Homo sapiens: one gene and its partner. Each later gene encodes a partner of the first gene's protein in a complex. Each region holds a gene or a part of one and is shown in the gene's direction. Other genes may lie near its edges.

Evidence for each region.
Region 2: the proteins of LIMK1 (region 1) and PAK4 are in contact, whole or in part, in a crystal structure (PDB 6WLY), measured with the Homo sapiens proteins. Residues at the interface, in NP_002305.1 of Homo sapiens: Lys505 (codon at 1,261), Arg506 (codon at 1,264), Tyr507 (codon at 1,267), Thr508 (codon at 1,270), Val509 (codon at 1,273), Val510 (codon at 1,276), Gly511 (codon at 1,279); in NP_001014831.1 of Homo sapiens: Glu329, Gly330, Ser331, Gln358, Arg359, Leu362, Thr404, Asp440, Lys442, Ser443, Asp444, Phe461, Leu475, Val476, Gly477, Thr478, Pro479, Tyr480, Trp481, Met482, Glu507, Phe516, Pro520.

What each region holds. Positions count from the first base shown.
Region 1 is NC_000007.14:74,114,644-74,122,045, forward strand, and holds part of LIMK1 (LIM domain kinase 1), read left to right. Parts: intron 1-1,158; coding exon 1,159-1,315; intron 1,316-5,939; coding exon 5,940-5,995; intron 5,996-6,248; coding exon 6,249-6,406; intron 6,407-6,495; coding exon 6,496-6,658; 3' UTR 6,659-7,402. UniProt on the Homo sapiens protein: Serine/threonine-protein kinase that plays an essential role in the regulation of actin filament dynamics. Acts downstream of several Rho family GTPase signal transduction pathways.
Region 2 is NC_000019.10:39,170,765-39,178,166, forward strand, and holds part of PAK4 (serine/threonine-protein kinase PAK 4), read left to right. Parts: intron 1-2,153; coding exon 2,154-2,612; intron 2,613-2,811; coding exon 2,812-3,246; intron 3,247-4,166; coding exon 4,167-4,300; intron 4,301-4,547; coding exon 4,548-4,674; intron 4,675-5,825; coding exon 5,826-5,951; intron 5,952-6,910; coding exon 6,911-7,045; intron 7,046-7,402. UniProt on the Homo sapiens protein: Serine/threonine-protein kinase that plays a role in a variety of different signaling pathways including cytoskeleton regulation, cell adhesion turnover, cell migration, growth, proliferation or cell survival.

The sequences.
Region 1 (7,402 bases):
GGTGGCTCACGCCTGTAATCCCAGCACTTTGGGAGGCCGACGTGGGCGGATCACGAGGTCAGGAGATCGAGACCATCCTGGCTAACACGGTGAAACCCCGTCTCTACTAAAAATACAAAAAATTAGCTGGGCATGGTGGCAGGCGCCTGTAGTCCCAGCTACTTGGGAGGCTGAGGCAGGAGAATGGCGTGAACCTGGGAGGCAGAGCTTGCAGTGAGCTGAGATCGTGCCACTGCACTTCAACCTGGGCAATAGAGCAAGACTCCAACTCAAAAAAAAAAAAAAAAAGATAAAATTGGGCCAGGTATGGTGGCTTACTCCTGTAATCCCAGCACTTTGAAAGGCTGAGGCAGGTGGACCACTTGAGGCCAGAAGTTGAAGACCAGTCTGGGCAACATAGCAAGACCCTATCTCAATCAGTCAATCAACCTAAATAAATAGTAAATCTGGTGGCATGCCAAGCACAGGACCTGGGTCTATAATCAAAATTCCTGTCTTGATGGGCACAGTGGCTCACACCTGTAATCCCAGCACTTTGGTAGGCCACAGTGGGTGGATCACCTGAGATCAGGAGTTCGAAACCTGCCTAGCCAAGTATGGTGAAACCCGTCTTTACTAAAAATACAAAAATTAGCCAGGCATGGTGGCAGGCGCCTGTAATCCCAGCTACTCGGGAGGGTGAGGCAGGAGAATCGCTTGAACCTGGGAGGCGGAGGTTGCAGTGAGCCGAGATCGCGCCACTGCGCTCCAGCCTGGGTGACAGAGCAAGACTCCGTCTGAAAAAAAAAACAAAAGAATTCCTGTCTTCTCTCCGAAACAAAGCAGCATCAGTGCCCCCGCAGGTGGGAGGGAGCGCTTGCAGGAGGGAGCAGTGGGTCCGCCACGACGGTCTGGGGAGCAGGTGGGGAGGGGGCAGAGGGTGCAGCGTGTGGTGGGAGGGAGGAAGCCACACTGCTATCTTCAGGTGCTTCCCGCAGCTCCATTTGCAAAGAGCGGATGGGTTTGGGGAAGGAAGGGGTCCCCACCCTGTGCCAATACAGCGTATCAGAGGTATGTTCTCTGGGCTGTCTACAGGTTGGCTTGGGGTCCTGGGGAGGGGCAGGCCAAGCGGGCAGTACTAGGATCGGGTCCCAGCATGACCCGGCTTCACCTTCCCAGAACAAGAATGTGGTGGTGGCTGACTTCGGGCTGGCGCGTCTCATGGTGGACGAGAAGACTCAGCCTGAGGGCCTGCGGAGCCTCAAGAAGCCAGACCGCAAGAAGCGCTACACCGTGGTGGGCAACCCCTACTGGATGGCACCTGAGATGATCAACGGTGAGTGGTTCAGCCCTGCCCATCATGGCCCTCACGGGAAGCCATGGGGGAGCCCAGGAGAGCTGTAACCTCCCAAGCCCCTGGCCCCTCCCAGCCTCCTTGGCTCTTCAGTTACCCTGTGGGTCCTGTTGCTCCTATAACACACTTAGTGGCAGCCAGGCACGGTGGCTCACGCCTGTAATCCCAGCACTTTGGGAGGCTGAGGTGAGTGGATCACCTGAGGTCAGTAGTTGGAGACCAGCCTAGCCAACATGGTGAAACCCCCATTCTTTACTAAAAATACAAAAATTAGCTGGGCATGGTGGTGGGTGTAATCCCAGTACTGTAGTACTGTAATCCCAGCTACTAGGGAAGCTGAGGCAGGAGAATCGCTTGAACCTGGGAGGCAGAGGTTGCAGTGAGCCGAGATCGCGCCATTGCACTCCAGCCTGGGTGACGAGCGAAACTCCATCTCAAAAAATAAATAAATAGAAGACACTTAGTGGCTTAAATAAATGATCATACAGTTCTGGAGTCTGAAGTCCAGCGTCAGCCTCACCGGGCTGAAATCAAGACGCCGGTAGGGTGAGCTCCTTCTGCAGGCTCCGGGGCACCTGTTTCCTGACCTTTTCTGGCTCGTGGAGGCTTCCTCATTCCTCCTGTTGCTGCCCCCTCCTCTGTCTTCAGGGCTGGCTGCAAAGCATCTTCTCTTCTCTGATCTCTGCATCCATCCCCGCATCTCTTTCCCTGGCTCTAACCTTCCTCCTTTTTTTTTTCTTTTTTAAAGAGGGTCTCGCTCTGTTACTCAGGCTGGAGTGCAGTGGTGCCACCATAGCTCACTGCAGCCTCAACCTTCTGGGCTCAAACTGTCATCCCACCCCAGCCTCCTGAATAGCTGGGACCACAGGCATGCAACACCACACCCAGCTAATTTTTTTATTTTTTATTTTTTATTTTTTTTTGAGACAGAGTCTCGCTGTGTCTCCCAGGCTAGAGTGCAGTGGCGTGATCTCAGCTCACTGCAAGCTCCGCCTCCTGGGTTCACGCCATTCTCCTGCCTCAGCCTCCCGAGTAGCTGGGACTACAGGCGCCCGCCAACACGCCTGGCTAATTTTTTGTATTTTTAGTAGAAACGGGGTTTCACCGTGTTAGCCAAGATGGTGTCGATCTCCTGACCTCGTGATCCGCCCGTCTCGGCCTCCCAAAGTGCTGGGATTACAGGCGTGAGCCACCGCGCCTGGCCAATTTTTTAAATTTTTAATAGAGACGGGGGTATCACTATGTTGCCCAGGCTGGTCTCAAACTCCTGGCTTCAGGCGATCCTCCTGCCTTGACCTTTCAAAGTGCTGGGATTCCAGGCATGAGCCACCATGGCCCTCCATCCTTCTGATAGGGACCCTTACGGTGACATTGGGCCCACCTGGATAATCCAAAAGCAGCCCTCCATCTCAAGACCCTCAACTTAATCCCATCTGCAGAGTCCGATGGAAGGTGGGACGTATACAAGTCCCAGGGATCAGGACGCAGTCATCTTTGGGGATCATAGTTCTGCCTCCCACAGGGTCTGCTTCCCTCAGTCCATTTCTTTGCTGTCAATGGTCCTATATATGCCCAGATTATAGGTTATAAAGTCCTTCTACAAGCAGGTGACACATGAACACAGGTTCAGGGCAGGCAGACCCCAGCCATCACCTCATCATAGTTAACCTAGTTAAATTAGCCTGGCATGTGGCGTGGTGCCTAATGCCTGTGGTCCCAGCTACTCAGGAAGCCAAAGCGGGAGATTTACTTGAGCCAAGGAGATCAAGGCTGCAGTGAGCTATGATCATACCACTGCCTTCTAGCCTGGGCAACGGAGTGAGACCCTGTCTCAAGAAAACAAAAAATAGGCCAGGCACAGTGGCTCACACCTGTAATTCCAGCACTTTGGGAGGCTGAAGCAGGCGGATTGCTTGAGGCCAGGAGTTCGAGACCAGCCTGGCCAACATGGTGAAACGCTGTCTCTACTGAAAATACAAAAATTACCCGGGTGTGGTGGCACAGCTACTAGGGAGGCTGAGGCAGGAGAATCACTTGAACCCAGGAGCAGAGGTTACATTGGGCCAAGATTGCACCACTGCACTCCAGCCTGGGCAACAGAGGAAGACTGTGTCTCAAAAAGAAAAAAAAAAAAACCTTCCTGTAATCCCAGCACTTTGGGAGGCTGAGGTGGGCGGATCACGAGGTCAAGAGATTGAGACCATCCTGGTCAACATGATGAAACCCCATCTCTACTAAAAATACAAAAAAATTAGCTGGGCGTGGTTGCACGCGTCTGTAGTCCCAGCTACCCGGGAGGCTGAGGCAGGAGAATGATGTGAACCCAGGAGGCGGAGCTTGCAGTGAGCCGAGATCGCACCACTGTACTCCAGCCTGACGACAGAGTGGGACTCTGTGTCAAACACACACACACACACACACACACACACACACACACACACACACACACAGAGTTAACATAGCCCGCAAAGAAGACTATAAAACAGTCTTAGTGGCCGGGCGCAGTGGTTCACGCTTGTAATCCCAGCACTTTGGGAGGCCGAGGCAGGTGGATCATGAGGTCAGGAGTTTGAGACCAGCCTGGCCAACACAGTGAAACCCCATCTCTACTAAAAATACAAAAATTAGCTGGACATGGTTTCGGGCGCCCGTAATCCCAGCTACTCAGGAGGCTGAGGCAGGAGAGTTGCTTGAACCCAGGAGGCAGAGGCAGGAGAGTTGCTTGAACCCAGGAGGCAGAGGTTGCAGTGGGCGACAGAGCAAGACTCTGTCTCAAAAAACAAAAAAGTCTTAGTGTTTCCTATGTTTAGGGATTAGTGTGAGGATTAAAGGTTGTAAACTCATTTCCACCTAGTTGGCATTCAGTAAATGAGAATTGACATTTAGTACTAATTGTTTCGGGTATTTTGTTTTTTGTTTTTTGTTTTTTGTTTTTTCTGAGACCGAGTCTTGCTCTGTCATCCAGGCTAGAATGCATGGTGCGATCTCGGCTCACTGCAAGCTCCGCCTCCCGGGTTCACACCATTCTCCTGCCTCAGCCTCCCACGTAGCTGGGACTACAGGCGCCCGCCACCACGCCTGGCTAATTTTTTGTATTTTTAGTAGAGACGGGGTTTCACCATGATCTCGATCTCCTGACCTCGTGATCCACCCGCCTCAGCCTCCCAAAGTGCTGGGATTACAGGTGTGAGCCACCGTGCCCGGCCAGTTTTTTGTTTTTGAGATGGAGTCTTGCATTGTCACCCAGGCTGGAGTACAGTGGCGTGATCTCGGCTCACTGCAACCTCCACCTCCTGGGTTCAAGTGATTCTCCTGCCTCAGTTTCCCTAGTAGCTGGGATTACAGGCACCTGCCACCATGCCTGGCTAATTTTTCTATTTTTAGTAGAGATGGGGTTTCACCATGTTGGCCAGGCTGATCTTGAACTCCTGACCTCAGGTGATCCACCCGCCTCGGCCTCCCAAAGTGCTGGGATTACAGGTGTGAACCACTGTGCCCGGCCATGTACCGATTATTTTTAACATCATTAAGTAGCTGGTATCATTCCCATTTTACAATAAGGAAACTGAGGCTCAGAGAGTCTGTGTCAGTTTCCTGAGGTTGCTGTAATAAATTGTTAGAAACTTGATTATTTAAAACAGCAGAAAATGGTCAGGCACAGTGGCTCACACCTGTAATCCCAGCACTTTGGGAGGCCGAGGCGGGCAGATCACTGGAGGTCAGGAGTTCGAGACCAGCCTGGCCAACATGGTGAAACACCATCTCTACTAAAAGTACAAAAATTAGCTGGGCATGGTGGCAGGCGCCTGTAATCCCAGCTACTCGGGAAATTGAGGCAGGAGAATCGCTTGAACCCAGGAGGCAGAGGTTGCAGTGAGCCACAATCGTACCACTGCACTCTTGCCTGGACAACAAAGCAAGACTCCATCTCAAGATAAAATAAACAGCAGAAATTTATTCCCTCTTAGTTTTGGAAGCCAGAAGGTTGAAATCCAACAGGGCTGCGCTCCCTCCAGGGCGATCTAGGGGAGAATGCATTCCTTGCCTCTTCCACCTTCTGGTTGTTTTGCATTCCTGGGCTTGTGGCCGCATCACTCCAGTCTCCACCCCTGTCTTCACAGGGCCACCTCCTCCTCTTCTGCTGTGTCTTCTCTGTGTCTCTCTCAAGAGGGCATTTGCAGTGGCATTTGGGGCCCACCCAGATCATCCAGCATCATCTCATCTCCAGATCCTTAACTTAATCCCATCTGCAAAAGACCCTTTTTCTGACCCAGTAACATTCACAGATTCCAGAGACCTGACATGGTTCCCTTTTGGGACCAGCACAGAGTTCATGACTTGTGCAAAGTCACGCAGCTGATCGGTGCCTCGAACTCCTTGTCCAGGGCTCTGCCCCTTGCTCCTCAGAGCTCCCAAAGGCTTGCTCAGACCTGGTGGGGTTGGGGGAAAGAGCCTAAGCCTGGGTTCCCATAGAGGTTGCCGGCATCTGCCTCCTGGGCCTGGACCTCCCGGCCGGGGCATCCTCCCAGCTGGCCTGGTCCCCTGCCTTTTGGCATCCCTGGCACCCCCATGTGTTCATCTGCTGACAGTCGGTCTCTTTATCCAGGCCGCAGCTATGATGAGAAGGTGGATGTGTTCTCCTTTGGGATCGTCCTGTGCGAGGTAGGTCCAGGGTTGGGTAGCAGCGGTGTTGAGGCCTGGGCTCCTCCCCACTCACCCAGGCTGCAGGCTCAGCATCTGCAGGGGCCTCATGCCAGGAAGCCTGCCCACAGCAAGGCATGGGCTGGCCCCCATGGGGTACTGCAGTCAGGCTGCAGCCAGGCCCAGTGCCACCTGCCCTCAAACCACCTGGATGGCACCCAGATGCCCAGGCTGAGGGCCCCCTGGAGTAACTGCCGGGCCTTGTACTGGACAGATCATCGGGCGGGTGAACGCAGACCCTGACTACCTGCCCCGCACCATGGACTTTGGCCTCAACGTGCGAGGATTCCTGGACCGCTACTGCCCCCCAAACTGCCCCCCGAGCTTCTTCCCCATCACCGTGCGCTGTTGCGATCTGGACCCCGAGAAGAGGTGAGTGGGGTGGGGCCCTGGCCTGGGAGACGGTGGGGCCGATTCCCGGGACAGCCAGACCCACCGTTCCCCACCCACCTGTCACCCAGGCCATCCTTTGTGAAGCTGGAACACTGGCTGGAGACCCTCCGCATGCACCTGGCCGGCCACCTGCCACTGGGCCCACAGCTGGAGCAGCTGGACAGAGGTTTCTGGGAGACCTACCGGCGCGGCGAGAGCGGACTGCCTGCCCACCCTGAGGTCCCCGACTGAGCCAGGGCCACTCAGCTGCCCCTGTCCCCACCTCTGGAGAATCCACCCCCACCAGATTCCTCCGCGGGAGGTGGCCCTCAGCTGGGACAGTGGGGACCCAGGCTTCTCCTCAGAGCCAGGCCCTGACTTGCCTTCTCCCACCCCGTGGACCGCTTCCCCTGCCTTCTCTCTGCCGTGGCCCAGAGCCGGCCCAGCTGCACACACACACCATGCTCTCGCCCTGCTGTAACCTCTGTCTTGGCAGGGCTGTCCCCTCTTGCTTCTCCTTGCATGAGCTGGAGGGCCTGTGTGAGTTACGCCCCTTTCCACACGCCGCTGCCCCAGCAACCCTGTTCACGCTCCACCTGTCTGGTCCATAGCTCCCTGGAGGCTGGGCCAGGAGGCAGCCTCCGAACCATGCCCCATATAACGCTTGGGTGCGTGGGAGGGCGCACATCAGGGCAGAGGCCAAGTTCCAGGTGTCTGTGTTCCCAGGAACCAAATGGGGAGTCTGGGGCCCGTTTTCCCCCCAGGGGGTGTCTAGGTAGCAACAGGTATCGAGGACTCTCCAAACCCCCAAAGCAGAGAGAGGGCTGATCCCATGGGGCGGAGGTCCCCAGTGGCTGAGCAAACAGCCCCTTCTCTCGCTTTGGGTCTTTTTTTTGTTTCTTTCTTAAAGCCACTTTAGTGAGAAGCAGGTACCAAGCCTCAGGGTGAAGGGGGTCCCTTGAGGGAGCGTGGAGCTGCGGTGCCCTGGCCGGCGAT
Region 2 (7,402 bases), on another chromosome or scaffold:
GGGGTCCGTGTGGTCCTTGCAGGGTGCTTTTGAATGCTTTGACTTCTTTGCCTCCACTGAGAAAGTGACAGACTTCACTTCCAAAGCCGTTTCTGGCATCTGGTGACAGACCAGCTGGAGGCGAGTGGCAGCTGCCTCCACGGGCAGGGCACTGGCTCTTCTGGGCCACAGGCCGCACCCGACCCACCTCAGCTCCACGCCCTGCCTGGCTCTGTGGCCACTTGCATGTAGGCTTTGCCCCCACCAAGGTGTCTCCAAAAACCCAGCCCCTGCCTGGCTTGCCAGATGTGAGGCCTGCCTGTGACTGTCCCAGCAGGAGGCAGGGCACTTGAATTCACACATGGGGCCTTGTGGCCAGCACTGTCCTGGGGCCCCATAGGCACTTGTGTTTGCTGCCCTTGACCGGGCCTCAGGCCTCCCAGGACCTTCTCGACTCCCTGTTGGTTTTTTTTTTTTTTTTTTTGAGAGACATTCCTGCTCTGTCTCCCTGGCTGGAGTGCAGTGGCGCCACCTCGGCTCATGCAACCTTCGCCTCCTGGGTTCAAGCGATTTTCCTGCCTCAGCCTCCCGCGTAGCTGGGATTACAGGCGCCCACCACTATGCCCATCTAATTTTTGTATTTTTAGTAGAGACGGGTTTTCGCCATTTTGGCCAGGCTGGTCTCAAACTCCTGACCTCAGGTGATCCTCAGCCTCCCGAGGTGCTGGGATTATAGGCGTGAGCCACTGCTTCTTGCCTCAACGCCCTGTTCTAACAGCAAAGTCTGGCCTTGTGTCCACCTTGACTTCCTGGGGCCCCTGGGCAAGGCCCGGCTTCAGGCAGACAGCCACGGCCAGGAGAGACAGGGCAGCGGCAGACCACGGATTTTGTGGGATCAGTGTTTTCTACACGTTACAGGCAGGCCTCTGGCTGGAGGATGCCTGGCAGCCCCAGGCAGGGTCCGGGTTTCGTGGGATCAGTGTTTTCCACACATTAGAGGCAGGCCTCCGGCTGGAGGACATCTGGCAGCCCCGGGCAGGGTCCTTGTCAGCAGGGCCCACGTTCTCAGCTCACTGTGGCCTTTGCACAGACACCTCACTCACTACGTGGTTTAGCAAAAGTTCACTGAGCCCCTGCTGTGCGCCAGATGCTGGTCTAGGTGCTGAGATGGAGCAGGACCCGAAGCAGACAGGAAAAAACAATCCCTGCCCAGAGCATGCACTAGGCAGAGCCGGGAGCAGACAGATGCCTGTGTGCTCTGTATCAGCTGCTGTTAGGTGCTCTAGGTAGAATGCAGGCAGGGCAGGGGCCGGGGAGGGCAGGGGCTGGCATTTTAGATGATGGGAGGCCAGCAGAAGCCTCACTGAGAAGCTGAGTTTTGAGCAAAGACCTGAAGGAGTGGAGGGAGGGAGCCACAGGGACCCTGAGAGCTGATGTTCCAGGCAGAGGGAGCCGCCAGCGGAGAGGCCCTGGGCGCAGGGGGGCGGGGGTGGGGGAGACACCCGTGTGTCTGGAAATGGAACGGGGGCAGAGGGGGCCTGCAGGACACGACTCAGACCACAGAGGGTGGGGACCGGGTGACTCGGGATGCACTGGATGCTCTGCCTGGTCCCCATCTGCATTTGCATTTGCCACCCGGCTCCTGGGACCCCCTTGCCCTCTACTTTGGGACCAGGCCTTTCTGACTCTCCCTGTCCCCCACTCCTTGTTGTTCATGGGAGCAGAGAGTGTGGTTTTGGGGCTAAGGAACACTGGCGCCCACATGGGAGGAAGTGCCAGGCCAGGCCCTGGCCCCAGCGCCCTGTCATTTGCAGCCCTCGGGGCTGATTATGGGGTGGGTCAATTTCTGCCCTTCCTCCCCCAAACCCCTCAGGGCAGGACTATTCCACCAGTGTGAGGAACAGGAGAAAAACAAGGGGGGCCTCTCCAGGGTCCCACCGAGCCCAGGGGGCAGCAGCCTGGCCATGGCGATCACTCCTCTGGCCCCTGCAGCTGTGTCCCCAGGGAGGGGAGGGGCTGCACTGCCCATGCCATTGTCACTCCATGGCATCTCTTCATTGCGTCTCTGTCTTGTCTCTGTGTGTGTCGTGCTGTCCTGTCCCTGCGTGTCGGATGCACGTCCTGTGTGCCCCACTCCTTGCTGGGCCCCCACCCACCATTGCCTGGGACCCCAGACCATCGTGCGGGGCAGCAAAGGTGCCAAAGATGGGGCCCTCACGCTGCTGCTGGACGAGTTTGAGAACATGTCGGTGACACGCTCCAACTCCCTGCGGAGAGACAGCCCGCCGCCGCCCGCCCGTGCCCGCCAGGAAAATGGGATGCCAGAGGAGCCGGCCACCACGGCCAGAGGGGGCCCAGGGAAGGCAGGCAGCCGAGGCCGGTTCGCCGGTCACAGCGAGGCGGGTGGCGGCAGTGGTGACAGGCGACGGGCGGGGCCAGAGAAGAGGCCCAAGTCTTCCAGGGAGGGCTCAGGGGGTCCCCAGGAGTCCTCCCGGGACAAACGCCCCCTCTCCGGGCCTGATGTCGGCACCCCCCAGCCTGCTGGTCTGGCCAGTGGGGCGAAACTGGCAGCTGGCCGGCCCTTTAACACCTACCCGAGGGCTGACACGGACCACCCATCCCGGGGTGCCCAGGTAACCCATCCCCCGCCCCAGGGCCCCCACTGTCCCCTGCCCGTTGCTCCTCTGTCCCCACCTTCCAGCCCCGCCCCACCACCGTGCATCTCATCCTGACCACCCATGTGTCTGTCCCATCGCTGGGTCTCTCTCCTGCTTAGGGAGCAGAGCTGCTCCCTGGCACCCATCACTGACAGCTACCTCTCTTCTGTTTCAGGGGGAGCCTCATGACGTGGCCCCTAACGGGCCATCAGCGGGGGGCCTGGCCATCCCCCAGTCCTCCTCCTCCTCCTCCCGGCCTCCCACCCGAGCCCGAGGTGCCCCCAGCCCTGGAGTGCTGGGACCCCACGCCTCAGAGCCCCAGCTGGCCCCTCCAGCCTGCACCCCCGCCGCCCCTGCTGTTCCTGGGCCCCCTGGCCCCCGCTCACCACAGCGGGAGCCACAGCGAGTATCCCATGAGCAGTTCCGGGCTGCCCTGCAGCTGGTGGTGGACCCAGGCGACCCCCGCTCCTACCTGGACAACTTCATCAAGATTGGCGAGGGCTCCACGGGCATCGTGTGCATCGCCACCGTGCGCAGCTCGGGCAAGCTGGTGGCCGTCAAGAAGATGGACCTGCGCAAGCAGCAGAGGCGCGAGCTGCTCTTCAACGAGGTGCGGGCGCTGCTGCCCTGCCGCCCTGCTGGTCCTCCCACCCCTCCCTCCCACCCTCCCTCCCCTCCTCCCTCCTCTCCCTGCACTCCTCCGTGCTGGGCCAGGCTCCCCTCCTCCCCTCACTCTTCTCCCTCCCCAGGCCGTCTCGTCCGCCCCAGCTGGGTCCCTGCCTCTGTCCTCACAGCACCCTCACCCACATCTCTGTCCCTGAGCCCCAGACCCAGGGTTCCTCGGGCCACTGACCCCCGACCCAGTGTCTTCCAGGCCCCTCGCACCCACTGAGGCCCGCCTGGGCTCCAGGGTACAGTGTCCTCCAGACCTGCCCCTCCTGGGTTCCCTGTGCCCCGCCCTGGCCTCCACTCCTGGGTGTCCCTCGGCACAGCCCACACAACCACCAAGAGTATGTTTCTGACGTTCAGGCCCACCCCCTCCCCGTCCCTCCTTAGAGACCCTGGCAGTGCCCCGTAGCACCCTGACGATAGGAAGCCCAGGTCCCTTTGCCGGGTGTGTGAGGCCCCTCTCGACCCCGTTGCCCATCACAGTGCCGGGCTGCACCATGGAGCTCCTCGCCTGGGTTCCTCATCCTCCCGCCGACACACGCCTCTTCTCTCATCCTTGCCCTTGTCCGGGTCTCAGCCCTGTGATTGAACGCTCTCTTCCCACCTGCCCCCCAGCACTAGCCCAGGACTGACCTGAGATGGGCGTGTGCCCAGGGGGGCGCGCCCCCAGAAGGGAGGCGTGGGCTTCAAGCTGGCTCTGAGGCCCACGTGGCTGTGGCAGTAGGGGAGGGCAGTCCAGGTGGCCCCAGTGAGCACAAGCTTAATGTGGAACTGCAGGGGGAGCCAGGGGGGTGGCGGTGGCTGGGTCTGGCACTGGCAGCCCTCCCGCCTCCCTCCACCACTGACCCAGCCCCTGCACAGGTGGTAATCATGAGGGACTACCAGCACGAGAATGTGGTGGAGATGTACAACAGCTACCTGGTGGGGGACGAGCTCTGGGTGGTCATGGAGTTCCTGGAAGGAGGCGCCCTCACCGACATCGTCACCCACACCAGGTATTTCTGGGGCCTCAGACCCCTCCTGTGACACGACCAAGTCCCCTCCAGACCACTAGGGGTGGGGCCACATCTCCAAACCAGCTGTGCTCCGGGCCCCTGGGATGGGGTCGTGTCTTCCATTCCTCCCACTCCAGAGTGGGGTCGAGTGGTCTCAGATTCCTCCCACTGCAAGGCAGGGCTGCGTCCCCCTCGGCACCCCGGGGTGCTGTCCAGCTGGCTGCTCACCCCCCACCCCACCCCGCAGGATGAACGAGGAGCAGATCGCGGCCGTGTGCCTTGCAGTGCTGCAGGCCCTGTCGGTGCTCCACGCCCAGGGCGTCATCCACCGGGACATCAAGAGCGACTCGATCCTGCTGACCCATGATGGCAGGGTGAGGGGACGGGCGGCGGGGTACGGGGGCGGCAGGTTTCCGGCTGCGGGGCTTCCCTGCCTCTTCCCATCCCCTGTGAGGGTAGGTGAGCTCTGACCCCCAGGTCTGTGTCTTGAGGAGCTGGGAACTTCGTCCCTCCCTGGTGGAGCAGCCCAGAGTCAGGTTCCAGCTCAGTGGGGACTCTGTGCAGTGGGAGGGCACAGGCTGGCGGGGGCTCTGCCATCAGCACAGGACACTGGGCCCAGGGGCAGGGATCTGGGCAGACAGCGCAGCCCCCGCCACAGGCTTCTTCCTCCACTGAAAAGCTGCTCCCTGCCCAGCACCCAGGGCGGTCCATGGACCCCAGTCCTGTCTTCCATGCTTTGGACTGAGGTTCCAAATCTGAGGCTGTGACAATTATAACGTCGGGTGGACATGATTTTCTGTGAGAGAGGGCCCTTGACTTGAATGAAATGCTTGCAGAAGTGGATGACTCCATCCCCTCCCCCAAGGAAGATTAAGCCACACCATTAGTCCAGGCAGAGGCAGAGAGAGCTCTGTGTCACTGACAGTCTGAAAATCTCCAGATGTCTATAGATGTGTTTTGGGGGCGATGTCTATGGGCCACCTGAGATTGTCCACACACGGTTGTGGGGATGTTTGCTGGAGGCAGGAAGACCCATAGAAATCCTCAAAAATCGGAAAGGGACCCACAGTTCCTAAGAAGGTGTGAGAGGCCTGGTTGTCGCAAAGGCAGGCTGTGTCCCCTCACGGCCCTAGTGCAGGGCTACTTTCTGCTCCAACCGAACTAAAGACTTGTTCCAGGGCAGCAGGGCCCCAGGGCACAGGCTTTTGGGGCCACCCCTGTTCCCAGCTCCGGCCCTGCCTTTGCTATCTGCAGTACTCAGGCCAGTGTCCCCAAAAGCCCCAGAGGCTGTCAGGGAGGGAAATGGGGGGATCGTGGGGGAGGTGACTTGCCCGAGGGCCCCCACCAGGAGGTGGTGGAGCTCCCCATTGGTCTGGCTCTAGACCCCAGCTCTGACCCTAGACCCCAGCTCTGACCTCTGGGCCGCACATTGTGTCTGAAGCCAAGGAATGACGCAGGCAGACGCCCCTGCTCGCCCTCCTGCTGTGCCAGCTCCTCTGACCCCACTGCCTCTGCCCTGTCCCAGGTGAAGCTGTCAGACTTTGGGTTCTGCGCCCAGGTGAGCAAGGAAGTGCCCCGAAGGAAGTCGCTGGTCGGCACGCCCTACTGGATGGCCCCAGAGCTCATCTCCCGCCTTCCCTACGGGCCAGAGGTGAGCCCCGGGGTGGCTTGGTTGTCCCGCCGTGGACAGCGTACGCTGCCATTTTCCAGCTGCAGCGCTGGCGGGAGATGGGGCCCAGTCTGGGGAGTCATTGCCAGGAATGGTGCTCTGGACAAGGAGGTACTGCAGGCATGCATGTATTCATTCTTCTTTTTTTTTTTTGAGATGGAGTCTCGCTCTGTTGCCCAGGCTGGAGTGCAGTGGTGCAATCTCAGCTCACTGCAACCTCCACCTCCCGGGTTCAAGCGATTCTCCTGCCTCAGCCTCCCGAGAAGCTGGTTTTACAGGCACCCGCCACCATGCCTGGCTAATTTTTGTATTAGTAGAGATGGGGGTTTCACCATGTTGGCCAGGTTGGTCTTGAACTCCTGACCTCAGGTGATCTATCCGCCTTGGCCTCCTAAAGTGCTGGGATTACAGATGTGAGCCACCGCGCCCAGCCTTGGCTCTGCCTTCTGAGCATTGTTTTCACAGGCCGGCTTTCCCCTTGTGGGAGCAGAGCTGGTCCCGGCAGCTCTGGGAAGTGTCTCCCACCTATGGGCTCCTCTTTTTCCCTGGGTGTTTTGGGTAAAGTCCCCAGGTTGGCTCTGATTGGCTCAGCCTGGGTCCTGTGCCTGTTTCTGAACCAATCACTGTGTCTCCACTGTGGTGATGAGGCCGCATGGGTCCTGAACCCACCAGTGGATGCTACCTGGGCTGAGGGAGGGAGGACACCTGGGGGCAGTTGACAGAAAGAAGAGGGGTGGGTGCTGGGGGGGCAGCTCTCTTGAGGGGCTCCCTGGAGGACTAGTGCTCTGTGGACTGCTGGCTGGGTGCCCAAGAGGGAGTTCTGGGCCAAGGACTCCAGGAGCCAGAGGCAGAGACAGCGCTGGAGCGGTCCCTGCCTGAGGCCTCCCCAGGACCCACCATCCCCCAACAGCTCAGCCCTGCTGTCCCTTCTCCCGCCCCAGGTAGACATCTGGTCGCTGGGGATAATGGTGATTGAGATGGTGGACGGAGAGCCCCCCTACTTCAACGAGCCACCCCTCAAAGCCATGAAGATGATTCGGGACAACCTGCCACCCCGACTGAAGAACCTGCACAAGGTAGGCCCCTCCCTGGCTGGGAAACTGTGCGCCAGCTGGCGGGTGGCAGGGCTCCAGGTGGAGCATGGGGTGTGGATGGGATGGGGACAATGATGGCGCCTGGGATGGCGCTTACTGTGTGCTGGGCCCCCCACCCCCGGGCCTCATGTGTCTGTGCAGACCCCCTCTGTGGGGCCTGGGCGACAGAGGCAGCAGAGCCACAGGCCCTCTGCACCCTCACCATTGCCCTGGGCCCCACCCAGCCCTAGAGAGATTTGCACGTTTAGAAGTGGAGGACAGGGCCGGGACCTTCCTAGTGGAGGACTTGCCAGGAGGGAAAGGGGCACCTCTGGGCCCCAGTTGCTTTCAGCTTCTTGC